Regions from separate parts of the Homo sapiens genome. Here regions 1, 2, 3 and 4 are each linked to region 5. The links come from fine-mapping of genetic effects on gene expression. A gene starts in region 5. Each other region holds a variant in brackets. All regions are shown on one strand. Distances are from middle to middle.

The links. PIP is the estimated chance that this variant, and not a neighbour inherited with it, causes the effect. A credible set is the group of variants that fine-mapping cannot tell apart.
Region 1: its variant is the best candidate, but not a certain one, in a credible set for the expression of MTERF2 in whole blood (TOPMed, PIP 0.69).
Region 2: its variant is the best candidate, but not a certain one, in a credible set for the expression of MTERF2 in whole blood (TOPMed, PIP 0.64).
Region 3: its variant is the best candidate, but not a certain one, in a credible set for the expression of MTERF2 in sun-exposed skin (GTEx, PIP 0.57).
Region 4: its variant is the best candidate, but not a certain one, in a credible set for the expression of MTERF2 in whole blood (INTERVAL, PIP 0.61).

Annotation. Positions count from the first base shown.
Region 1 is chr12:106,927,634-106,932,739 of GRCh38, forward strand. No RefSeq gene overlaps it. Among named protein-coding and RNA genes, the nearest start is that of TMEM263-DT, 25 kb to the right of the region's middle. The variant T/C (reference allele first, on the strand shown) is at 2,145.
Region 2 is chr12:106,946,655-106,951,760 of GRCh38, forward strand. No RefSeq gene overlaps it. Among named protein-coding and RNA genes, the nearest start is that of TMEM263-DT, 6.3 kb to the right of the region's middle. The variant A/G (reference allele first, on the strand shown) is at 3,119.
Region 3 is chr12:107,007,411-107,012,516 of GRCh38, forward strand. The region is part of intron 2 of CRY1 (cryptochrome circadian regulator 1); the gene reads right to left. Among named protein-coding and RNA genes, the nearest start is that of MTERF2, 23 kb to the left of the region's middle. The variant G/A (reference allele first, on the strand shown) is at 3,104.
Region 4 is chr12:107,660,935-107,666,040 of GRCh38, forward strand. No RefSeq gene overlaps it. Among named protein-coding and RNA genes, the nearest start is that of PWP1, 22 kb to the right of the region's middle. The variant G/T (reference allele first, on the strand shown) is at 2,511.
Region 5 is chr12:106,984,565-106,989,670 of GRCh38, forward strand. MTERF2 (mitochondrial transcription termination factor 2) reads right to left here and starts at 2,582. Exons shown (of 3, transcript NM_001033050.3): 1 at 2,405-2,582; 2 at 551-661.

The DNA.
Region 1 (5,106 bases), 57 kb before region 5:
GCCCTGACAAGTTATAGGAATACTGGCCATGAATTTTGTAGAATATCCCTCCATTGGTGTTTGGTGTTTTTCTCACATACAGACTGGGGTTACAGACTACTGAAAGACCACAGAGACAAGTTTTATTCTCATCACAATCACATCAAGGGCACATGATATCAACATGACTTATCATTGATGATGTTAACTTTGATGATCTGGCTGAGGTAGAGTTTACCAGGTTTCTCCACCATAAAGTTACATTTTTCCTCCCCTTTTCATGCCCTGTGTTTGGAAGCCCAGAACATATTCAAGTGTGGGAAGGGAATTAAGCTCTATCTCCTTGAGGGAGAAGTACGTATTTAAATTATTTGGCATTCTTCTGTATGGCACATTTGTTTCTTCTTCCCTATTTATTTATTTATTTATTCCTTTATTAATTGTAGATAGATGCATGGATATGTATTTTATACTTTGAGGTCTATTGTAATACTATGTTATTTATTTTGTTGCTCAAATTCTTCCAGGTTTGGCTATTGGAAGCTCTTTTGTGTTGGCTCCTATGTCTTTTTGACATGCCTCCATCCTTTTGCTCTGAGCACATCTCGATTTCCTGGGACTAACAGATGTTTCAGGCTCATTTTGTATGTTCCCTGCCCTAACCCTAAAATCAGCCACTTCTCCAAGCCCTAGATCCTTTTCTTGAAGAATGGACTTAGAAATAAGCACTGGATGCCATTTTTCACATTTTAATATTTGGTCCATTTGGAACTTATCCTGGTACATAGTGCGAAGAATGGGTCTAATTTTACCTTTATTCATATGGCTAACCAATTATTCCAACAGCATTTATTAAGAAGTCCAGGCTGGACACAGTGGCTCATGTCTATAATCCTAGCACTTTGGTAGACTGAGGCAGGAGGCTCACTTGAGCCCAGGAGTTCTATACTAAACTGGGCAACATAGACCCCATCTCTACAAAAAATGTTTTAAAAATTGGGTGTAGTGGTGCACATCTGTAGTCTCAGCTACTCAGGAGGTTGAGGCAGGGAAATCACTTGAGCCCAGGAGTTCAAGGCTGCAGTGAGCTATAATAGCATGACTGCACCCTTGGATGACAGAGCCAGTCACTATCTACCCCAAAAATTAAAAATTAAAAAACCATAAAGTCTATTTTTCTCCCACTGCTTTGAGATGCCATCTTTATCATACACTAGATTTTCATATGCAATTGCCTCTTTTTCTGGCTTTTCCATTCTGTTCCATTGGTTGATCTGTCTGTTAATGCACCATTACCCTACTAGTTTACTTATACATGATTTATAATATTTGTTTTAATATCTGATAAGATTAAACTTGTTACTGCTCTTCTTTTCTGGATTTTCCTATTTGTTCTTATTTGGTCTTTCATATGAACTTTATTATCAACCTGTCTAGTTCCAGCAAAAAGAATCTGATGGTAGTTTTATTGAGATTGTGATTATTTTATATATTAATTTAAGGAGTAATGATATCTTTATAACATTGAGTCTTCCTATACAAATTCATTGTATGTCTCTCTATTTGTCTTATGTCTTTCAAAAGTGTTTAGTATAGTTTTCTTCATATAGGAACATTCCCTGTTATTTATTCCCTATTAATTCATTTGTTCATCCATTCATTTACACTATGATAAATGGGATATTTGCCATCATACCTTCTATTAATACTAGCTGTTGCTTGTGTATGTGAAGGCTGTTGCTATCTGAAGTCTTACTGAATTCTCTTCTTGTTTATGGTATCTCTTCAGCTGACTCTCTTTGGTTTCCTGGAGTTATAAGTATTCATATTTGCAAATGGTATGAGTCGTACTTCTTCCTTTCCAAGTTTTACATCGCTAATTTTGTCCTCTTGTTTTCTTGCATTCACAAATACCTTTTTTCAGTATGGTGGCATTCTTTGACTTATTGTGATGATAGATCATTTTGATGATATCTATTGAGGAAATGCCCTCAATAGATAAAAGGTTTGAAGGTTTTTTTTTTTGCAACGTGTGTGTGTGTGCACATGCAAGTGTATTTTGACCAGGTCAAGCATGTATCTATTTCTACTTTAATGGCTTTTAAAATCAACAATAAGTGTCAAATTTTCTCAGATATCTTTTCAGCATCTTGAAGATGATTATA[T/C]GATTTTTTCTCCCTAACCTCTTTATTTTATTATTGATTCTTCAAATGTAAATCCTACTTGCATTCCTAAAATAAGTGCTACTTGGTCATGATGTATTATTTTTTAATAGGCTACCAGATGCTCTTTGATTCTATTTTATTTGAGATTTTTTTCATTGATATTTATAATTAATATTAATCTGTACTTCTCACTTTGCCAGGTTTTGGTATTGTTATATGCACTTCATAAAAGCAGTTTGGTACTACGCAAAGCAAAATACAGATTCAATGCAATCTCTATCAAAATACCAATGATATTGTTTACAGAAACGGAAAAAGAAGTGTAAAATTTATATAGAACAAAAGACTCCAGATAGCCAAAGCAATCCTGAGCAAAAAGAACAAACCTGGAGGCATCACACACTACCAGACTCCAAAATATACTACAAAGCCATGGTTACCAAAACAGCAAAGTACTCGCATAAAAACAGACACATAGACCAATAGAAAAGAATAGAGGACAGGTAAATTAATTAAAGTATCTATAGCCAACTTATTTTTGACAAAGGCACTGAGAACACTCATTGGGGAAAGGCCAATGTCTTCAACTAATGGTGCTGGAAAAACTGAATATCCATATGCAGAATGAAACTAGACTCCTATCTCTCACCATATACAAAAATCAACTCAAAATGGATCAGACCTAAATATAAGACCCAAAATTATAAAACTACAGGAAGAAAACATAGGGGAGGAACTTCAGGACATTGGTCTAGAAACAGATTTTGCTAATAAGACCCCAAAAGCATAGGCAACAAAAGCAAAAACAAACAAATGGGATTATATCAAACTAACAATCTTCTGTACAGCAAAGGAAACAATCAGCAGAGTGAAAAAACAACCTACAGAATGGGAGAAAATATTTGCAAATTATTCATATGACAGGGGTTAATAGCCAGAATAGACAAGGAGTTCAAACATTTCAACAGCAAAAAATAAACAATCTGATTTTAAAATAGGCAAATGATCTGAATAAACATTTCTCAAAAGAAGATACACAAATGGTCAACAAATGTATGAAAACATACTCAACATCACTAATCATCAGAGAAATGCAAATCAAAACCACAATGAGGTATCATCTCACCCCAGTTAGGACGGGTATTATCAAAAACACAAAAAATAACAAATACAAGTGAGGATGCAGAGTGACTGTTTAGGGGCATAGATTTCTTTTTGTTGAGAAGAAATGTTCTAAAATTAGATAGTGGTGATGTTTGCACAACTCTGTAAATACAGTATACTAAAAAGCACTGAACTGTACACTTTCAATGGATAGATCTTTTGGTATGTCAATTATATCTCCATAAAGCTGTTATTAAAAAACAAAAGTTGGCTGGGCATGGTGGCTCACACCTGTAATTCTAGCACTTTGGGAGGCTGAGGTGGGAGGATTGCTTGATCCTAGAAGTTCAAGACCAACATGGGCAACATAGCAAGACCCTCATCTCTTTAAAAAAAAAAAAAAATTAGCCAGGCATGGTGATGCAGAGTTGTAGTCCTAGCTACTTGGAGGCTGAGGCAGGAGGATTGCTTGAGCCCAGGAGTTCAAGGCTGCAGTAAGCTATGACTGCACCACTGCACTCCAGCCTGGGCAATAGAGTGAGACTCTGTCTCAGAAAAAAGTTGGATGGAGGAGGCGCCATGTGCTGTTGGTATTAGTGCTGTCAGGCTGCTTTTGATTCTTCAGCACCCAGTTGTCTCAAACCCTTTGCCACTTCTACTGAAGACTAGGATCTTGCCAGGAAAATGTCTGATGAATTTTCTATGGCAAATGCTCTACCTGAACACTTCCCTGACCAGGTCCTGCTGTGATTAATAGAAATCTAGTCAACCTCCTTAAGGCCGGCCAGATTCCAAACCTTGGAAGAACCCATGTGCTGTGCCTTCTATGCCATCTGGACTCCCGCCAAGTGCAACACTCTTCATTGTACCTTTCGGACCTTTGCTAACAGGATTGCATCCCTCTGTGCCTCCCACTGGACTGCCTCTGGGAACCCAAGAACTCTTCCTCTTTCTGGACCATCCTGCTCCCCAACTAATGGTCCTTACCCAACTTCAACTGTGATGCACCTGGACCCCACAGGCCATATCCTATGCCAAAAATGCCCTTTCTAGAGCTTCCCAGACCATATGGTGCTTTCACAGGTCTCACAAGTCGTGCTGCAACTGGTATTTTAGGTCCATGAAAATCCACGTTTCCGAACCATGGGCACCAGAAATGAGAAGGCAGCATCCTACTCTAAACATGCCACATGTACATCTAGAGCCATATCTTACTCATCCTCCTCCCCGGCACCAGGGCAGTGTCATCTTTCCCAGTGGGGCTCTGTCCTATGTAGACCACCAGTACCACAGACTATATCCCACACAAGTCTCTATCCTATTCATCGTAATTCTTTTCAAGTTCCTTTGGGACCTTCTGCCTGGTAGCCTCATTCTTACCCATTCTTACCATTAAGTTAAAAATGGATAAAGGGATAGCATTTTGCTTTTGAAAGCACACACACTGTATATATATATATATATATATATATATATATATATATATATATATATATAGTGTATATACTATAGGCTGTCTTTTCATTTCACAGGCAAACCTTTCATTTGTTAAAAAAAAAAGGCAGTATCTGTGAATTGCAATAAAGTGCAATAAAATGAGTTATGCCTGTATATATACTGGATGCGTATATACACAGTATATGTAGTATATATATGTAACATATGTATATACTTATATACTACATTTGTATATAGTAGGCCAATTAATAGGCCAAATAAACCAATTAATAACCTTATGATGGCCTCTACGTGTTCAAGAGAAAGGAATAGTTGCAAGTCTCTCACTTTTAATCAAAAGCTAGAAATGATGAAGCATAATGAGAAAGGCATGGCAAAAGCTGAGACAGGGCAAAAGCTA
Region 2 (5,106 bases), 38 kb before region 5:
ATCATTCTGTTTTGGGTTGGGTTTATAGTTTTATAAACCTCATGCCATATGTTGACATCTTATAGTATTTGGCAGGGATAAGTATGGAACTGCTTGATCAATAAATATAAAAAATGCTGAAAATTCTTAAGACATTTCTAATATTACTTTACCAATAATTTGAAAGCCAGCTTATTTATTAAATATTTTACTTGTATCACATAAACTTGAAAGACATTTGGGTTTTTCTGTGTGTGTGGTGGCTCGATGTGTGCTGACTGTGAGCAGGACTCTACAGTGTTCCACCACTGAATTGTTTCTGCCCTCTTAGATGTCTGTTTCTCTCTCTGGAATTCTATTACCTCCAAGAGGGCTCAAAATGCCAAGTGATCAGCTCTTATATGTGTTTCCTGGAAGAGCCTTTCTAAACTAATTTTCTTGGGGGTTCCCTGTAGGGCCATTGCACGTCTCAGGAAGTCAACCCCCAGACACTTTTACTTCGTCCCCAGTCACCCAGGAGCACCTTTCAGCTGGGAGGAACAAAATGCCCTTTTTCTTCAGAGCTGAGGACCTCAGTCTCATTTATCTATGAAAATAACAGTTCAGTTCCTCACACAAATGCACAGACAAACCAATTGAGCTTAATTTTGGAAGAAAAAGCAACGGAGAAGACTTCTTAGAATGCACCTCCAAACCGGAAACCAAATGAGGTGCCCAAAAAGGGGTCCTTCTCCTTGTCTTTAGAAAAAGGCAATGGAGAACACCTTTAGAATGCACCTCCGAACTAGACAGGGATCCCAAATAACTTTCTAGGAGGAAAAAAAAAAAAAACTCAAGAATAAATCAAGGACCATCAGCCAAATGGGAGGTCCAGTGCTCAGAAGGACCTAACAATTCCACTGGAGGAAATGCTCAAAGTTGGGGAGAACTATCATTGGGCCCCTGCTGGTACCTTAGCTCCAAGTTCAGCCAATTCCTTCAGGGCTCTGAGTCTTCTCTGAGGCCTGATGTTAGGTGCCAAATTATTGTAAGTGAAAGAGCCAAACTCTGTAAATTATTTGAAGAGATTTATTCTGAGCCAAATGAGTGACCAATGGCCCATGACACAGCCCTCAGGAGATCCTGAGAACATGTGCCCAAAGTGGTTGGGCTACAACTTGGTTTTATACATTTCAGGGAGACATAAGACATCAATCAATACATGTAAGATGTACATTGTTTCAGCCACAAAGGCGGGACAACTGAAAGCAGGTATGGGGGGTGAGAGGACTTCCAGGTCATAGGCAGATTCAAAGATTTTCTGATTGGCAATTGATTATTGTCTAAAGACCTGGTATTGATAGAAAGGAATGTCTGGGTTATGATAAGGAGTTGTGGAGACCAGGTTGTAGTATGTAGATAAAGCCTCTAGGAAGCAGGCTTCAGAGGTAATAGATTGTAAATGTTTCTTATTAAAGAGTCTCTTCTGTCAGTCTGAAAATCTCTGTGTTGATGTTAATGCTGGTCAGGTGTGAGGCATGTCCAACAACCACTTCCCATCCTGGCCTGAACTAGTTTTTCAGGTTAACTTTGGAATGCCCTTGGCTGAGGAGGGGTTTGTTCAGATGGTTAGGGGGCTAAGAATTTTATTTTTGTCTTACACTATTAACTAGCACAGCGACTCTAAAACGTTAATTATTCTCTTGGCAAATAAGTGATTAGGCTCATGTAAGGATGTGCCCTGAAAGCAAGAAAGGAAAGTGGGTCAAGTAGTCACTGATACAAATTTTAATTTGGCAGTTTTAGATCTAGGAAGAGATTAATGTTGGCTCCTTCACACTCTGAGGATTGGTGGCTATTTCCCTTACATTCAATGTGAATATGAAGGACAGATTTCAAATGGTCCCCTAAAACAGTTTCTCCCTCTCTTAGAACTCATTTGCATTTGCAAACTGAAATTAGTGTTTCAAGTTAGAATTCCATCTACCCTGGTTGCAGAAGACTTAAGATGTTTTTATGCCCTCAGCCTTTTCTTCATCTGTAAATGACGGACCACCTCCCTCAGAATGCATACAGCATTACCTAAACCATGGGGTGGGCCATTGTTTCCAAAAGCAGGCCAAGTTGAGAGGCTCTCTTACTGTAATTCACATAAATCCTAGTCAAACCATATTGCATTCTGGGGTCACGTTGAAAATGTCAACTTGGTAAATCTCCCTTCTCATGGTAAATGTACATGTTCTTTCAACCTGGCTATTGCAGATGACAATAAAGACCCTATTGTTCAGCTTTGGGCTGCTCTATTCTATCTTTTTAAAGCTCCACCTTGTCTATCTTCACCAATCCCCATTTAACTTTTTACCATCGATAAGGCATAAATTATGCTGTGTGGGCTCTGCCACCACTTTGGGTGCCTTGCTCCAAGGTGAAATGGAAGCTTATCATTAGTCCTCTCCCTAGTCCTAACATCTATACTGGATGCAGGTAGAAAATAGTAATGATTCCGCTCTCATAATTTATAAGTATCATGCTGACGTCCTTAAAAAAGTAGGTATTCAATTCTTATTAAAATATAACTTCCCTCCTCTCCCTGCTGCAGAAGCTTTCTTCAGCCCACATCCATATCTATCTTTTCTGCACTCATTCAGTCCTCTTTTTTTACTCAATTTGGCCTTTATTTGTATTACCCTTTAACGATCTTTAAATGCTTAATGTGCACATGTCCCTCTTCACATGGCGGCAGGAAGGAGAAGTGCCGAGCAAAGGAGGAAAAGTCCCTTTATAAAACCACCAGATCTCATGAGAACTCACTCACTATCATAAGAACAGTATGGGGGTAACAGCCCCCATGATTCAATTACCTCCCACCAGGTCCCTCCCACAACACATAGAGATTATGGGAACTACAATTCAAGATGAGATTTGGGTGGGGATACAGCCAAACTGTATCAAGGATAGAACCAAGGGTAGAAACCAGACTCAAACTGGGTACTGAAGTTGCTCTACTGGTTACTGTAGAGGTAAGGGCACTTGAGAGAAGAAACTAGCCAACAGTGGTCAAGTATGGTAAGCAATTAGGCAAAAACATAAGAACAAATTGAACATCTTTAAACTCAGGTTGTATTACTGAAACTACTGTGAAGTGCTGCCCATTAGGAGT[A/G]TAAGAGGCTGCTCACCTTTGGGCCAGTCTTCATATTCATGGTGTCAGGTAGCTCTACCTCATCACAACTCTTTTTTCCCATTCCAACATCTTTCTTTTTCAAGTCAAAATTATTAAGGTATAATTTACACACAGCAAAACTGCTCTATTTAGTGTACAAATCTATGAGTTTTGGCAGATGCATACATTCTGTAACCCACACACATCACAGTCAAGATATCCAACAGTTCCATTACCCCTCCCCAATTCTCTTAAGCTCCACTTTATAGTCAACTCCTCTCACCTCACAGGCAACCACTGATCTCTTTTCTCTTTTTATGGTTTTGCCTTTTCCAGAATGTCATATAAATGGAATACAGTATGAAGACTTTTTAATCTTGCATCTCTCACTTAGAATAATGCACTTGAGATTTATTTGTGTGTAGGAGCAGTTTGTTCCTTTTATATGCTGAGTAGATTCTATTGTATATATGTACCACGGTTTGCTTATCCATTCACAAATTAAAGGGCATTTAGGGTGTTTCTAGTTTTAGATGATTATAAAATATGTTCAGGTTTTTGTGTGAACATGTTTTCATTTCTCTTGGGTAAATATCTAGGAGTAGGATTTCTAGGTCATATCACAAGTGTATGCATAACTTTATAGGAAACTCCCAAACCATTTCCCAAGTGTATGTACCCCTCTGCATTCCCACCAACAACATCTGAGAGTTTTAGTTTCTGTCCATCATCAATAGCTTTTGAAATTATTTTTATTTCAACCAAGTAGTGATCACTGTGGCTTTGATTTGCATTTCCCTAATGACTACTATAGTAAATAGACTACAGCAACAAAAGGAACAAACTACTCCTACACACAACATAAATACATCTCAAATCCATTATTCTAAGTGAAAGATGCAAGACTAAAAATGCTTCATACTGTATTCCATTTATATGACATTCTGGAAAAGGCAAAACCATAAGGAGAGAAAACAGATGAGAGGTTGCCTCGGGGTGGGAGGGGTTGCGCATCTTTTCATATGCTTATTTGCCATCCATGTATCTCCTTTGGTAAAGTGATTGTTCAATTATTCACACATTTTAAAACTGGATTGTCTTCTGAGTTGTAAGATTGTTTCACATATTCAGAATACAGTCACTTAATAGGTATGTTTTGGCTGGGAGCGGTGGCTCACGCTTGTAATCCCAGCACTTTAGGAGGCTGAGGCAGGCGGATCATGAGGTCGGGAGATGGAGACCATCCTGGCTAACATAGTGAAACCCCGTCTCTACTAAAAAACAAACAAACAAACAAACAAACGAAAATTAGCTGGGCATGGTGGCAGGCGCCTGCAGTCCCAGCTATTCGGGAGGCTAAGGTAGGAGAATGGCGTGAATCCAGGAGGCAGAGCTTGCAGTGAGCCGAGATTGTGCACTGCACTTCAGCCTGGGTGACAGTGCGAGACTCCGTCTCAAAGAAAAAAAAAAAAAAGGTATGTTTTGCAAATATTTTCTCCCAGTCTGTTGCTTGTTCTTTTGTTTTCTTAAGTGACATCCAAAGAGCAAGTGTTATCCAAACAGCAAGTTTTTATAAATTTCTTTCTTTCATGGATTGTGTTTTTTGTTGTACCTAAGAAAACTCTGCCTAATTCAAGATCATAAAAATGTTCTCCTATGTTTTCTTCTAAAAGTTTTATATTTTCACATTTAGGTCTATGATCCATTTTGAATTATTTTGCATATGGTGAAAGGCATGAGTTTATAGGTGTTAAGCTTTTGTTTTAAAAATGATGTCCAATTATTCCAACATGTGCTTCTTTTCACTATCTTTTAATAAGGCTCAATTTAGCAGACACTCTATATATGATCCACAAAAAGAAAGGGAACCTTCTAGCTTTGGTGTGACAATCCTATGGCTGGAGATGAAAGGGCAGTTTCCAGTCCTTTGACTGGCAGAAATACCTAATAAGTATGCTTTCTACTCCATAGAAATGCATGATATAGAA
Region 3 (5,106 bases), 23 kb after region 5:
AAAAAATTAACCATATTATTGGGTTGCTAAAGAATTAAATAACATAATGCATATAGAGTGTTTAGGACAGAGCACAATGCATAGCAAGCCCTCAATGAATGACAGGAACTCTTTTTCTTCTTTTTTTTTTTTTTTAAGAGTTAGGCTCCCACTCTGTTGCCCAAGCTGGAGTGCAATGGTGCAATCATAGCTCATTGCAACCTCAGACTCCAGGACTTGAGCAATTCTCCCACCTCAACCTCCCGAGTAGCTAGGACTACAGGCATGCACCACCATAACCAGCTAACTTAATTTTTTTTCGTAAAGACAGGGTCTCACTGTATTGCCCAAGCTAGTCTCAAAATCCTGCCCTCAAGAGATCCTCCTTCCTCAGCCTCCCAACGTGCTGGGATTACAGACGAGAGCCAATGTGCCTAGTGCAATTTAGCACTGTTTTTTGAAAAACATTATTTTAAATCTTAGTAAATACTGAAGTGAGTCAATAAATAACACTTCCTGCCCCTTTTCCTTCTTGAGTTCAGTCACGTAAGCCAGGGGGCTAAAGATAAAAATATCAGCCATATTATTAGCAAAGCTGAATTGTAGAAAACATACCAGGTTTCAGGGCAGGTAAACTTGCTAATACTATTTCACTGTTGAATCAAACAGATTTACCTACTCAATCATAAGCAGCACCTCCCGCAGTGTGGGCTTTCCCTATAAAACGTATCACATAGAAGAGGAGAATATAACGTGTGCTCTCTACAACTAAAAGAAAAGGAACCGTCTCAGCTAAACTAGCCCAGCTCCTTCTCCTAAACTCACCAATGAGATCATTCACTTTTCCTTCCCTGGGGATAAATTAGTGAACATCTCTCCAAAAGAAAAATGAAAATCTAGGGAAGAGAAAGTTTCCCAAAATTAAATGCATTCAGTAATACACTAAGTATTTATTATAATTCTAATTATATGACAGATATTATGCTAGATGCCCCTCTCCTGGAGCTTATTGAGAAAGAGTGGCAATACAGAGGTAAATTACTGAATACGTAACTATTAGGGAAAAAAATGCTATGATAAAGAATACGGGGATGGGGTATGAGGTGGTAAGCTAATAATCCACACTCTGTCTTCCATGACTGCACTGGCTAGACTTCAAGTAATTTGTAAAAGCAAATATCCTTGTTTTTTCCTATCTTGGGTAGAAAGCATTCAGTGTTTCACCTTTAAGTAAGATTTTATGTTTTTTTGTAGACTTCCTTTATCAAATTGCTATTTAGCACTTGATATGGTTTGGCTGTGTCCCCACCCAAATCTCATTTTGAATTGCAGCTCCCATAATCCCCACATGTCATGGGAGGGACCCAGTGGGAGGTAACTGAATCATGGGGGTGGGTTTCGCCCGTGCTGTTCTCATGATAGTGAATAAGTCTCACAAGGTCTGATGGTTTTTTTAAAGGGCAGTTCCCCTACCCATGCTCTCTTGCCAGCTGCCATGTAACATGTGCCTTTGCTCCTCCATCTTCCACTAGGATTGTGAGGCCTCCCCAGTCACGTGAAACTGTGAGTCAATTACATCTCTTTCCTTTATAAATTACCCAGTCTCAGGTATGTCTTTATTTGCAGTGTGAGAACAAACTAATATAGCACTTTAAAGAATTTCTAGTTAGCTAAAAGACCTTTTTAAAAAGTATACACGGGTGTTGAATTATGTCAGATGCGTTCTCTTCATTTGTTAAGATAATTTCTCTTTTCCTTTATCCTATTAACCCAGTAGGTTATATTAATTGATTTTTTTAATGCTCAACCAACTTTGTATTCATGAGATAAACCCCACTTGATCCTGAAGTAGCAGTATTTTAAAATATTGCAGGCTGGGCACGGTGGCTCACACCAGTGAGCTCTTTGGGAGGCTGAGGCAGGCGGATAGCCTGAGCTCAGGAGTTTGAGACCACTCTGGGCAACATGGTGAAACCCCGTCTCCAATAAAGATACAACAATTAGCCAGACGTGGTGGTGGGTGCCTGTAATTCCAGCTACTCAGGAGGCTGAGGCAGGAGAATTGCTTGAACCCGGGAGGTAGACGTTGCAGTGAGCCAAGGTTGTACCACTGCACTCCAGCCTGGGCGACAGAGCAAGACTCCATCTCAGAAAAAACAAAAAAACAAAAAAACATATATATATATATATATATATATATATATATATATATAAAATCTCTATATCTCCAGGTTCACGGTCCGGTACGGTGGCTCATACCTGTAATTCCAGCACTTTGGGAAGTCAACATGGGAGGATGGCTTGAGCACAGGAGTTCGAGCTCAGCCTAGGTAAATATAATGAGACCACATAGTGTCTTTACAAAAAAAACTTTTTTTAAATAAAAAATATTGCTAGATTCAATTTAGTGATTTCTGAGTCTTTGTTTATGGGGGACACTTGGCTATACTTTTAATTTTTTCTCAAACTTTCCTTGTCAGGTTGTGGTATCAGGGTTATGCTGTCCTCATAAAATGAGTTGGGAAGTAATCTCAATCTTGTTTTCTGAAAGAGTTTAATTTAAGAAGGAAATACTTCCTTCTTAAATGTGTGATATAACTCAAAATAAAGCCATCTAAGGGCTTGAAGTTTGTTTATGGGAAGGTTTTTAATTACAAATTCAATTTATTTAAGAGATATAGGGCTATTCAGGTTTTCTTTTTCTTCTTATGAGAGTTCTAGTAAATTATACCTTTCAAGAAATTTTTTCATCTCAGATATATAATTTATTGACAGTATAGTGTTTACGATATTCTTTACTATGCTTTTAAAGTCTGGAGAATCTCTAGTGATGTCCTCTTTCTTATTCCTGATATAGGTAACTTGTATTTTCTTTCTTTTTTGTCCGAATCAGTATTAAGAGTTTATCAATTTTATTAATGTTTTCAAAGAACCCGTTTTTGGCTTTGTTGACTAACAGGAGACAAAAATCACATCAGCAATTTGAACATGAAAAATTTACAAGGGCAACTCATTTTATTGTGCTTTGCTATTTATTGCACTTCTCAGATATTGTGCATTTTATAAATCAAAGGCTAACGGCAACCCTGCACTAAGCAATTCTATTGGTGCCATTTTCCCAAAA[G/A]CATGTGCTCACCTCGTGTCTCTGTGTCACATTTTATCAATTCTCACAGTATTTCAAACTTTTTCATTATTATATCTGTTATGATGACCTGTGATCTCTTCTCTTTTTTTTTAAGAGACGTGGTTTCACTGTATCACCCAGGCTGGTCTTGAACTCCTGGCCTCAAGTGATCCTCCCATTTCAGCCTCCTGAGTAGCTGGCACTACAGGTACCAGTCACTACACCCAGCTTTTATCAGAGATCTCTGATGCTACTATTGTAATTGTTTTGGGGTGCCATGAATTGCACCCATAAAAGAGGGTGAACTTAACTGATAAATGTAGTGTGGTCTGTCTGCCCTACCCAGCCTTTCCCCCATCTCTTTCACCCTCTCTCCCTCTCCTCAGGCCTCCTTATTCCCTGAGACAACAATATTGAAATTAGGCCAGTTAGTAACCCTACAATGGTCTCTAAGTGTTCAAGTGAAACGAGGAGTCACACATCTCTCACTTTCAACCAAAAGCTAGAAATAAGCTTAGTGAGGAAGGCATGTTGAAAGGTGAGACAGGCCAGGCTGGGCGCAGTGGCTCACGCATGTAATCCCAGCACTTTGGGAGGCCAAGGCGGGCGGATCACGAGGTCAGGAGTTCCAGACCAGCCTGGCAACATGGTAAAACCCTGTCTCTACTAAAAACAAACAAACAAACAAAAACTGGGCATGGTGGCATGTGCCTGTAATCCCAGCTACTCGGGAGGCTGAGGCAGGAGAATCGTTTGAACCCGGAAAGCGGAGTTTGCAGTGAGCTGAGATCGAGCCATTGCACTCCAGCCTGGGCAACAGGGCAAGACTCTGTCTCAAAAAACAAACAAAAAAAAAAAACAAAAAAGAAAGCTGAGGCAGGCCAAAAGCTAGGCCATTTGCACCAGTTAGCCAAGATGTCTAAACAAAGGAAAAGTTCTTGAAGGAAATTAAAAGTGCTACTCCAATGAACACATGAATCATAAAAAAAAACAAAGCAGCCTTAATGGCGATATGGAGAAAACTTTAGGGGTCTGGATAGAAGATCAAACCAGATACAATACTCCCTTAAAGCATAGTCCTAATCCAGAGAGAGGCCCTAACACTCTTCGATTCTGTGAAGGCTGAGAGAGGTGAGGAAGCTGCAGAAGGAAAGTTGGAAGCTAGCAGAGGTTGGTTCATAAGGTTTAAGCAAAGAAGCTGTCTCCATAACCTAAAAGTACAAAGTGAAGCAACAAGTGCTGGGTGGAGAAGTAGCAAGTTATCCAGATCTATCTAAGATAATGAATTAAGGTGGCTACACTAAACTACAGATTTTCAGTGTTGATGAAGCAGCCTTCTATTGGAAGAAGATGTCATCTAGGACTTTCATAGCTAGACAGAAAAAGTCAATGCCAGGCCAGGCACTGTGGCTCATGCCTGTAATCCCAGCACTTTGGGAAGCTGAGGCAGGCAGATGCTTGAGGTCAGGAGTTCGAGACCAGTCTGGCCAACATGGTGAAACCCTGTCTCTACTAAAAATACAAAATTTAGCCGGGCATGGTGGTGCACGCCTGCAGTCCAAGCTACTCAGGAGGCTGAGGCAGGAGAATCAATTGAGCCCAGGAGGCGAAGGCTGCAGTGAGCCAAGATCGTGCCACTGCACTGCAGCGTGGGTGACAGAGGAAGACTCCGTCTCAAAAATAAAAAAAGAAGAAAAAGTCAATGCCTAGCTTCAAAGCTTCAAAGGACAGGCTGACTTTCTTGTGAGGGGCTAACATAGCTGGTGACTTTAAGTTGAAGCCAATTCTCATTGCCCATTCTAAAACTCCTAGGTCCCTTGAGAACTATGCTAAATCTACTCTGCCTGTGCAGAACAGGAACAACAAAGCCTGGATGACAGCACATGTGTTTACAACATGGTTTATACATATTTTAAGCTCTCTGTTGAGACCTACTACTCAGAAAGAAAGACTCCTTTAAAAATATCACTGCTCACAGACAAACGTACTTTGTCATCCAAAAG
Region 4 (5,106 bases), 680 kb after region 5:
AGGAGCTCTGGGACCTCCTCTGCACTGAGATTCTGTGATTCTGCTTTTGTTCTGTGTTCCCCGTTCTGCGATTCTGCTTTTGGATCTCACATTGTTTCTTCCTGTAAAGCCCTTGGCAAAAAGTGCTATCCGACTGTATGTTGTCATACCAAGACTTTCATCACACAGTGTTTTGCCAACATCAGACTGTGCGGATAAAGGGTTCTTTGAGAAAATCTATTTCACGAGTCTTGGGTCCTCTGCCTTCAGAATTCAGCACCCACCTCCCTCCACCCCCACCTTCAGTCACAGACGAATGAATAGTCGCAGAAGTGCTCACATCCTCCCGCTTCTAGTTCTTTCTGCCTAGCCCCTACACAGTCTCCAAGGCCAGCAGTTTCCTGGGTTTCTCCACTCAGGGAGACATCTATTGCGCACCTTCTGTTGGCAGCACTGATTGCTGAGCCCTGGACTCCAGCACAGACGTGAAAACCCTGTTCCAACTGGATCCAACCCCTGACTAGCTTTGAGACTTTGGACAAGTTACTTACTCTATCTAGTATTCACCTTCCTCTTTCAAAAAAAAAAAAATGGGTTTAACTATAACTAGTGGCCGGCCGCTGTGGCTCACGCCTGTAATCTCAACACTTTGGGAGGCCAAGGTGGGCAGATCACTTGAGATCAGCAGTTCAAGACCAGCCTGGCCAACATGGCAAAACCCCATCTCTACTAAAAAATACAAAAATTAACGGGGCGTGGTGGCAGGCACCTGCAATCCCAGCTACTCAGGAGGCTGAGGCAGGAGAATCGGTTGAACCTGGGAGGCAGAGGTTGCAGTGAACCAAGATTGTGCCACTGCACTCCAGCCTGGGCAACAGAGCAAGACTCCGTCTCAAAAAGGAAAAAAAACAAAAAACAAAAACCTATAACTAGTGAATAGTGGTGTTGGGAGGATTAAAGGAGATATTTTGTACGAGTCCCACACTGTTAGTAGCAGGGAAAAGGCTTTTCTAAACTTCTAAGACTGAGCAGAAGGAAGGGGAAATTGATGATTCATACAAGGAAAGGAAGGCTAATGACTTTGCCTTCATTTCTAGAACTTTCTACAGCAGCGGTTCCCATGGTGATTTGTGATTCTCTAGGGTTTTGCTACTTATTCCGAGGAGTATAGGGAAATTCCCCCCAAACTGAGCTCTTTTGTGATTCTAGTTCCTAGCACAGTGCTTCACACAAAGTAATCAAGAAATGTTTGCAAATGGAAGCCAAGTACACCTGGATTTCCTTTCTTATAAACATCATATTTTCAAAAGATTAGAGTTGCAGGGATTCACTCTTCCAAATTTCTTGTCTACACAGGAATGTGAGATTCACATGTGTGACTTGGATGACACGAGACTCCCATGGTGTGTGTCTAAGGTCCAAGACCCCACAAATGGCTGAGCAGGGCCCACGCCCGCCAGAGCCAACTCTCAGTCCAGGGCTTGAGGACCACAGCTCTGTGGAGAGGGAGAGGGTAGCCACAAACCCCCAAATGAAACAAACTGCTAGATATCCCTCCAGAAAAATCTGGGACTGCTGTCCTCATCAAGTTAGTAGGCAAACCCATATGCCCTGTGCTGCCACTTGAGTGTGTGGACACTCATCCCCCACCCCTCCACCAAGAAACCTCCCTGGTGGAACTTCACGTCACCTCTGTTCCTCCCAGCCTAGCCAATGCCTTGAATAAAGCAGCACGTGCCTTTGGCCGGGGCCATTGCAGAAGCTGCTATGATGCCTATTTTTTCCACCCTCTTTAAAAATAACCCAACAGATTTTGAACTTCCTGCTTGGCAGAAAAAAATAGAACTCATACTCAGCAATCACATTGCGCTTTAGTTCCCATCACTGATGAGGCAGGCAGATAACGAGTGCCCTGTGAAAGGACACATCTCCAAGTTTAGCCCTGAATCTGAAAAGACAATCTGTCTGCGTGAATAGGCAATTAGAAGACATGCCCTGATGTCATTGGTGCGTTCTTTGGATGTTGCTTTTCAGAGCTAACCTTCAGATGAGTTCTGAATTTTAATGCTACGGAAAACCTCTGGGATGAAGAGCTACAAAGGGAAGAGGCTGATTGGTACAATGGAGGGGCTCTGTGCTGGGCACCACATCTCACCCCTGACCCTGAATCTGTCATCTGCTACCTGGGTGACCTTGGCCAGGCCTCTTCTCCATCTGGACCTGTTTCCTCAACTCCTTCTGACTTGATGTCCTGTGGGCCTAGACTGGAACCTGTCACACTCTCCTTACCACACTCCTATATTAGAACCTTGTGAGAACATCATTTTGTGTAATAGAACATTCCAGATTGCATCCAGGAGGATTTAGCAAAAGGGACCTTTTTCATCATTTCACAATGATGCCTTCAGCAAAACAGGCTCCCAGCAGGAAACCAGATAAAAGCGTTAGAATGAGGCTTCACCTATCTCACCATGAAGATGGCATCTCTCTAGATCATTGCTACATGACTACCATCTCCTTTTTGGTTTGGG[G/T]TTTTTTTTTTTCACTTTTTATTTTGAAACAATTACAGATTCGCAGGAAGTTGCAAAGATAGTACAGAGTAACCCAATGGTAACATCTTAGATAAATTTAGTACAATATCCAAACCAGGAAGTTGACATCGCTACAATGTGTGTGTATGGTTCTGTGACATCTTGCCACGTGTGGATTCGTGTAACCACCACCACTGTCACTCTTCCCTCACCGCAAAGATCTCCCTCATGCTACCCCTTTGGAATCACTCTGGCCCTTCCTCCACCAACTTCATCCCAAACCCCTGGCAACCATTAATCTGTTTTCCATCTCTATAGTTTTGTTATTTCAAGAATGTTATGTAAATGAGACCATATAGTAAGCAGCCTTTGGAGATTGGTGTTTTTATTATTATTATTATTATTGACACACGGTTTCATTCTGTCGCGCAGGCTGGAGTGCAGTGGTGTGATTTCAACTCACTGCAACCTCCGCCTCCCAGGCTCAAGAATCCTCCCGACTCAGTCTCCCAAGTAGCTGGAACCACAGACATGAGCCACCATGCCCAGCTAATTTTTATTTATTTATTTATTTATTTTTGTAGAGATAGGGATTTTACCATGTTGCCCAGGCTGGTGTCAAACTCCTGGGCTCAAGCAATCCTCCCACCTCAGTATCCTGAGTAGCGGGACAACAGGCATGCACCACCACTACCAGATCACTTTTTAAAAAAATTTTCTGTAGAGACAGGGTCTCGCTATGTTGCCAGGACTGGTCTCAAACTCCCGAGCTCAAGCAATCTGTCTGCCTCAGCCTCCCAAAATGCTGGGATTACGGGTGTTAGCACCTCAAACGGCGAGACTGGCTTTTTGCACCCAGCAGAATGCCTCAGAGACCCATCCAAGGAGCCTGCACGTATGGAATGCTTGTTCCTTTTCATTGATGAGTAGCATTCCCCGGTATCCTGTCACCTTTTAACCAGAGAGAGACAGGGGCTTTCTCTGTCACCCAGGCTGGATTACAGTGGCGTGGTCACGGCTCACTGCAGCCTCAACCTCCCCAGGCTCAAGCTATCCTCCAACCTCAGCCTCCAGAGTAGCCACAGGTGGAAGCCTCCACGCCTGGCTAATTTTTTTATTTTTTGTAGAGATTAGGTCATACTATGTTGTCCAGGCTGCTCCCAAACTAGGTCTTTCTGTAATTGATGACTTCTAGACATCTCACTGATGGTGTAGGGCAGTGCTTCTCGAATTTGTTAAAATGACTCCATGGGGCTGGGGTGGGGCTTGAAATTCATTGTTTCTAACAAGCATCCCAGCGCTGCTGCTGCTGCTGCTGGTCCAGGGACCTCACTTTGAGTAGCAAAGGTGTGCAGTCTGGAAGTCAGAGATTCATCTCAAACCCTTTCTGCTGCCAGGCCAACCTGTGACACTTGTTCTGTCACCTGGCCTTTCTGGAGTCTCAACCTTGAGGGTTATTACGAGCCTTTCTTTCTGACCCAGGGGAGACGTTTTCACAATGCATCTGAAAAAAAATCATTTGAAATTCTATCTTCCAAAACCAAACACCGCATGTTCTCACTCATAAGTGAGAGATGAACAATGAGAACACATGGACACAGCAAAGGGAACATCACACACCAGGGCCTGTCGGGGGGTGGGAGCAAGGGGAGGGAAAGCATTAGGACAAATATCTAATGCATTCGGGGCTTAAAACCTAGATGACAGGTTGATGGGTGCAGCAAATCACAGGAAGGAGAACATCAGACACTGGGGCCTGTCGTGGGGTGGGGGGAGGGGGGAGGGATAGCATTAGGAGATATACCTAATGTAAATGACAAGTTAATGGGTGCAGCACACCAACATGGCACATGTGTACCTATGTAACGAACCTGCATGTTCTGCACGTGTACCCTAGAACTTAAAGTATAATTTTAAAAATAAATAAATGTAATCCTGTCTTCCTAGGTGGAGGGCTCTAACAGTCTGAATTAAGCTAAGGAATTACTCACACATAACCTCACTCTACCTTACTTTTCCCTGGTCTGTTGTTTATCTAAATCAAGTTTATTTATTTCACGGGTATTTACTGATGCCCTAATATAAATGAGAGACCCACTCCTGTGCAATGGCATTAACCAAAGGTAACCAAAGGTGACCTCATCCCTTTTCTTTGTCCTGTTTCCTTCAGGGTTGGCGGCAGAAGGAAAAGAAAAGATTCCTGTTTATTTTCAGACTATGCTTCGAGGCTTCTCTCTGCACTCACAGAGCCCCCTGGGGTGGCAGGGACACCCAGGAGAATCAACAAGGGAATAATCAAAGCTGCTGCCCCTTCCCTGTTCACTTCACAACACTTTGATAATGGAGAGGGACGCTGGAGTATCTGGTTCAAAATGGCTGCTGGGTGACCCTGATACTTCTCAGTTGTATGCTATGGGGAATGAGTGGGTGGGGAAGAAGAAAAAGTGGTAGGATTTTAATCCATAATTACTCATTATTTTGTTTACTTGTGAAGGGAACGACTGCATTTTTGGCACTTCAAAGGACTTGCTTTCATACATTAAATATTTTGTTTGAGGAAGGGAAAAGCTCAGATAGTGTTTTCTGTTGAATAAGT
Region 5 (5,106 bases):
ATCTCATCTTGAATTGTAGCTCCCATAATTCCCTTGTGTTGTGGGAGGAACCCAGTGGGAGATAATTAAATCATAGGGGTGGTTTCCCCCATACTGTTCTCATGACAGTGAATAAGTCTCATGAGATCTGATGGTTTTATAAGGGGAAACCCCTTTCGCTTGGCTCTCACTCTTTTCTTGTCTGCCACGATGTGAGATGTGCCTTTCACCTTCCGCCATGATTGTGAGGTCTCCCCAACCACGTGGCACTGTAAGTCCATTAAACCTCTTGCTTTTGTAAATTGCCCAGTCTTGGCTATGTCTTTATCAGCAGCATGAAAAAGGACTAATACAAGCCATGAGCCACCACACCCAGCCTTCCTTATCTCTTTTGACTTCTGCAGCTTTTAGCAGAGTTGACCACTTTCTCCTTGAAATATTCTCTCATTTGACTTCCTGGACACTCGACTTTTTTTGATTCTTCTCCCTTTCTATACTTCTCGCCACCCTCTATCTGTCTCCCATACAAGCTCACCTTCAAGGCTTGGTTCTAGACCTCTCTTCTTCTTACCTTACAGTCTCTCCCCACAGATCTTGTCCTCATCCAGATATTCAGTTCATCCACTTGGGATTCTTTCCAACTTCTTCTCAAAATGTGATCTTGTCAGTTCCCTGCAATAAACTTGCCAATGGCATTTTAGGATAAAGACAAAGTAAAATAAAACATAGAAATGCCTTACCATGGCCTACAAGGCCTCTTTGGGCTCTGCCACCACCCTAATTCCCATTTCCCTCTCCTGCACCAGCTGCATTTGCTTCCTGTCAGTCCCTGGTGCTCTACTGGTTTCTACCATGTGGTCTTTGAAGACTGTGGGCCAGATTCCATGCCCAAAATGCTCCAACTTTTAGGCCTAAGTGTCACTTTCTCAAGGAAACTTTTCTAACCTTCACGAATACATGAAGCCTCCTGTCCCCATTACATGATTTCATGGCACCATGGACTTTTACACTTGCGCACAAGTGGTACAACAGCTGCAGCTGTTCACGTGTTGTTTCTGTCTCAACACTACATGGACAGACTGGTCACCACAGTGTTCCAATGAACTGCTTCCCTATCCTTCACCCAGCTGCCTTCACTGCCTCTAGGAGGCATTCCTGGGCAGGTGGCCTTCTGTGTGCTCTTCCACAGCACCCTGCTCCGGACGCTACTGCAGCACTTATTATGCTCTTACAAGTTCTTCATTCTTCCAACCAGTAGGAATTTTGTTGCTGTTTGTTTGAAGTTCAAGCTGTGTATCAGGCATACTAGGCACAGATCTGCTAAAACAACACTTCTTCACACCTCTGTTTGGATCACAGATCAACTCAGAACCTGAGAGTCACAGACTCTCTTTCCAGAAGAAAAGACCCACGCTCACAACATTTCGCAAATGATTTTAGCAGGATTCATGGACACCCTGCAGCCCGGCCATGAATGACCTGCACTAGATTTACAAGCGTTGGGAAGGCAGGAACTGAACGGTGTTCTGCTTTATTCCCTGCACCCAGCAAAGAACTTGTTCCACAGAGAGACAAAATTAGTATTTGTCAGGTGAAACTGAGTGAACAAGTGGATGCGGTACATTAATGCAGTGGGTAAAACTGGGTTAGCAGAGCCAGACTGCCTGATTCCTGGACAACAGTTGTGTTGTGACTTGAAGAAGTTACTTCACCTCTCTGAGCCTCAGTTTGGCATCAGGAAAATGGTGATACTATCTCCTGGGTGACTGCAAAGATCAAACGAGTTAATACCATAAATCACTTAGAATATGCAGAAAACTCTTCACATATACTAAATCATTAAATCATCACAACAACTCATTTTAAAATGAGGAAACAGACGCAGGTAAAGGAACTTGCCCAAGGTTACTCAGCTAAAAAAAAAAACAAAAAACAAAAAACCGGCAGAATTTGGACTCAAACCCCACAGGTTGGCTCCAGAGTCCTGCCTGCTCTTAGCCCTGTGCCCCCACATATAGCAATGCTTTTGGTAAATGTTTGTTAAATCACAATGTGGGCTGTTCTAGGATGCTTGTTTCTTAAGCATTTTTGGGGAGTGAAATTCACTTCTGTAATACACAGTTATGGTTAGTATGGTCTTCTCTACACCACCACTGGTTTCAATAAAGTTCTTCTTTCGTAACACATATGCCCTGCTGCCAGTTTCAAATTGACCAACGTTTATAAGCAAGGAAAAACGAGGGTCCACGGAAGATCTCCAGGACCGATCAAAAGGCCGCACATTCACTGTGGGGCCTCCGCTTTTCCAGAGAAACCCGGCAGGCTGAGCTGAGCGTCTGGCGAGGCGTGGGGTTTTGCGGGCCCTGACCGCTGCGGCGCCGCTGGTGAGGAACACGCCCAGGAGCAGAGGAAGGGGGCGACTCACCCGTCGGCGTCAGCTCCAAGCAAGGCACAGGGAGTCCCGGGGGCCAGGCCCCGTCCTTCCCTCTCTCTCCGGCCAGCCTCCCCACAGTCCGCAGTCCCCGAGGCCTGGAGCCGGGATTTCGGTCCTCGGTCTCAAGAAGCTCCCGACAGTTCTCAGCAGCGCCAACCAGGCCATCAGTCCCTTCGCCCATGGCCAATCAGGGCTCGGGAGATGACCGCCAACCCCCGCCCCCCCAAGACACGCCCCCGCGTCCCAACGCAGCCAGTCAGAGCGCGGGACACAACTACGCGTCCCTCCCCGCACCACGAGGGCGAGTCGGAGTGGGAATCGGCTTTCCAGGCAGCCCAGCCTGTGCTGGCGGGGGCATCTGGCATTTTCACACCCTTTCCTTCCCAGCATTTTAGGAAGCGGAGTTCCAGTAGCTTTGACGCTTAGAAAATATAAGAAAAAAAAGAAGTAACAGAAACCGCTATATCTTTAAGATAGAGCCAATCACTGTTCCCAAAATAATTCAGTTAGGTAAAGAACCAACTTACAAAAGAAATGTTTAAAAAACCCCCAAAGTTCTTTGAAACACATCTGAACTCTTCCCCGCCCCCACCCTACCCCAGCAGTTAGCGACTGTCTTTAAAAGCCATTCTCCTTTCTCTCCCTCCTTGCCACCTTCACCTAAATACTCCCCTTTTCTGATAAACTGCCAAGTGGTTTCCATTCTAATTATTACCGGTGATGCCCAACCTCATACACTAAACACGTTAATTTCTCCTTAAAGCCAGGCTGAATGTCTCTCTCATTTATTTTCACATTTATCCATCCAAAAAACAAGTATTTATGGCAGGCCTGCTAAGTGCCAAGCATATTGAAACAGCAATGAGAAAATAGAGGGGGAATAAAACACATTCCCTGTCCTTATGGAGCTTACATTCTAGTGGAGGGCAGAGATATCAACAACTAATAACGTGACTAATCACACCTAGTTAAGTGTTATCGAGGACAGGGTGCCCTGAGCTGGGCCTGGTGATTCTGTTTGTGTGGAGTTGGAGTCAGGAAAACTGGTTTTCCCAGCTGGAGGTGTCTGCTGTCAGGTGTTCGTAGCACACTGTGCACAGTTCTGCCGTCGGTGGCACTGGCATACAGACTGCCCTCGCACCCTGTGGAGTGAATTCCTTGAGGCTACTGATTATTTTTTCTGTCAACAATGCTGGGCACACAGTAGGAACTCAGGAAATGTTAACTAAATCTTTGAGTCTAGTCTCACTATGCAGTTTAGGCTCAACAGGCTATATTGAGAGGAGCTCACACGTGCATTTAACTCCACTGAGTAGCAGCAAGAATCCTGGCTCCTCAAGATCACCCACCTCTGATCTCTAGGATATTCTAGAATGATCTGAGCAACTCATGTGTACAGCTGGGGGGTGTTTGTCCAGCAACTCCTGAGTTATCCGAATATAAAAACTCTATTATGCATAGATTTATTGCACACTTTTTCCTGAAATAAAATGATTTGGGGTCCAGACTAACCAAAGTGTGTCATTTGCACTTAGGAAAAGGAAATTAGGATACAGAAAAGGAAGTTAAGGAATGTAAACTCAGGACTTAGAACTGCAAGCTGCCATCACTGGTCAGGAGGGAGGGAGCAGAAATGTGCACCAGGGTGCTGGAAGCTTGTATTAGGGCTCCACGTAATTGTGCAAGGAATTACAATACATATGACCCCGTGCATTGTAATCAAAACTTGAAACTGACAAATCAGCTATGCCAACTGTATTAAATAAATGCTACTCAAAGTTTTTTCCAGCCCAAATATTTAAACAGTGCATTTCTAGGACCATATAATCAGAAAAAAAACCTTGAATGAAGAAAAGGGGAAAAGAACTTACAATTATGCATATTATGTACAAGAAAATTACAAACACATTTGAATTGTGAGAAGATCCTGAAATTTCTAGTATGTAAGAGATGCATTAAAAATACTGATAGACTTTTATATCTCAAATTTACTTATTTATTTTAAGCAAATATGAAAAACATAAGGACTTTGTACAGTTCATTCAAAACCCTGGTTCTCTCAATATAATTTTCCCAAGTTGTCAGTACAGTTTTTGGCAATAAGAATTGAAGAAGTATTTGCTGAATGAGTAAAATGTCTTAAATCCCTTAACCACAAGTAGGATTTCTAGTTAAGGGGAGAACACTGATTCGAACATCATGTATCTGCTCAAGTAGAGCATGATGACTGATGCCTTTTCTTTCCCTTTCAGTGATTCATTTTGACCACTATTTACACCAAACTGAAAAAGCTTTCCAAAAAACTCCCTAATAAAAAAAAAATCCTCTTACATTTATAAATAGCATACCAGTGCTTATGCTGAGATAGTGTTCTTTTACTGTTTATTTATTCACATTAAAACTGAATCTTTGGCCGTGCGCGGTGGCTCATGCCTGTAATCCCAGCACTTTGGGAGGCCGAGGCCAGCGGATCATGAGGTCAGGAGATCGCGACCATTCTGGCTAACGGTGAAACCCTGTCTCTACTAAAAAATACAAAAAATTAGCCGGGCGTGATGGCACGCGCCTGTAGTCCCAACTACTCGGGAGGCTGAGGCAGGAGAATCGCTTGAACCCAGGAGGCAGATGCCGCAGTGAGCCGAGATCGTGCCACTGCACTCCAGCCTGGGCGACAGAGTGAGACTCTGTCTCAA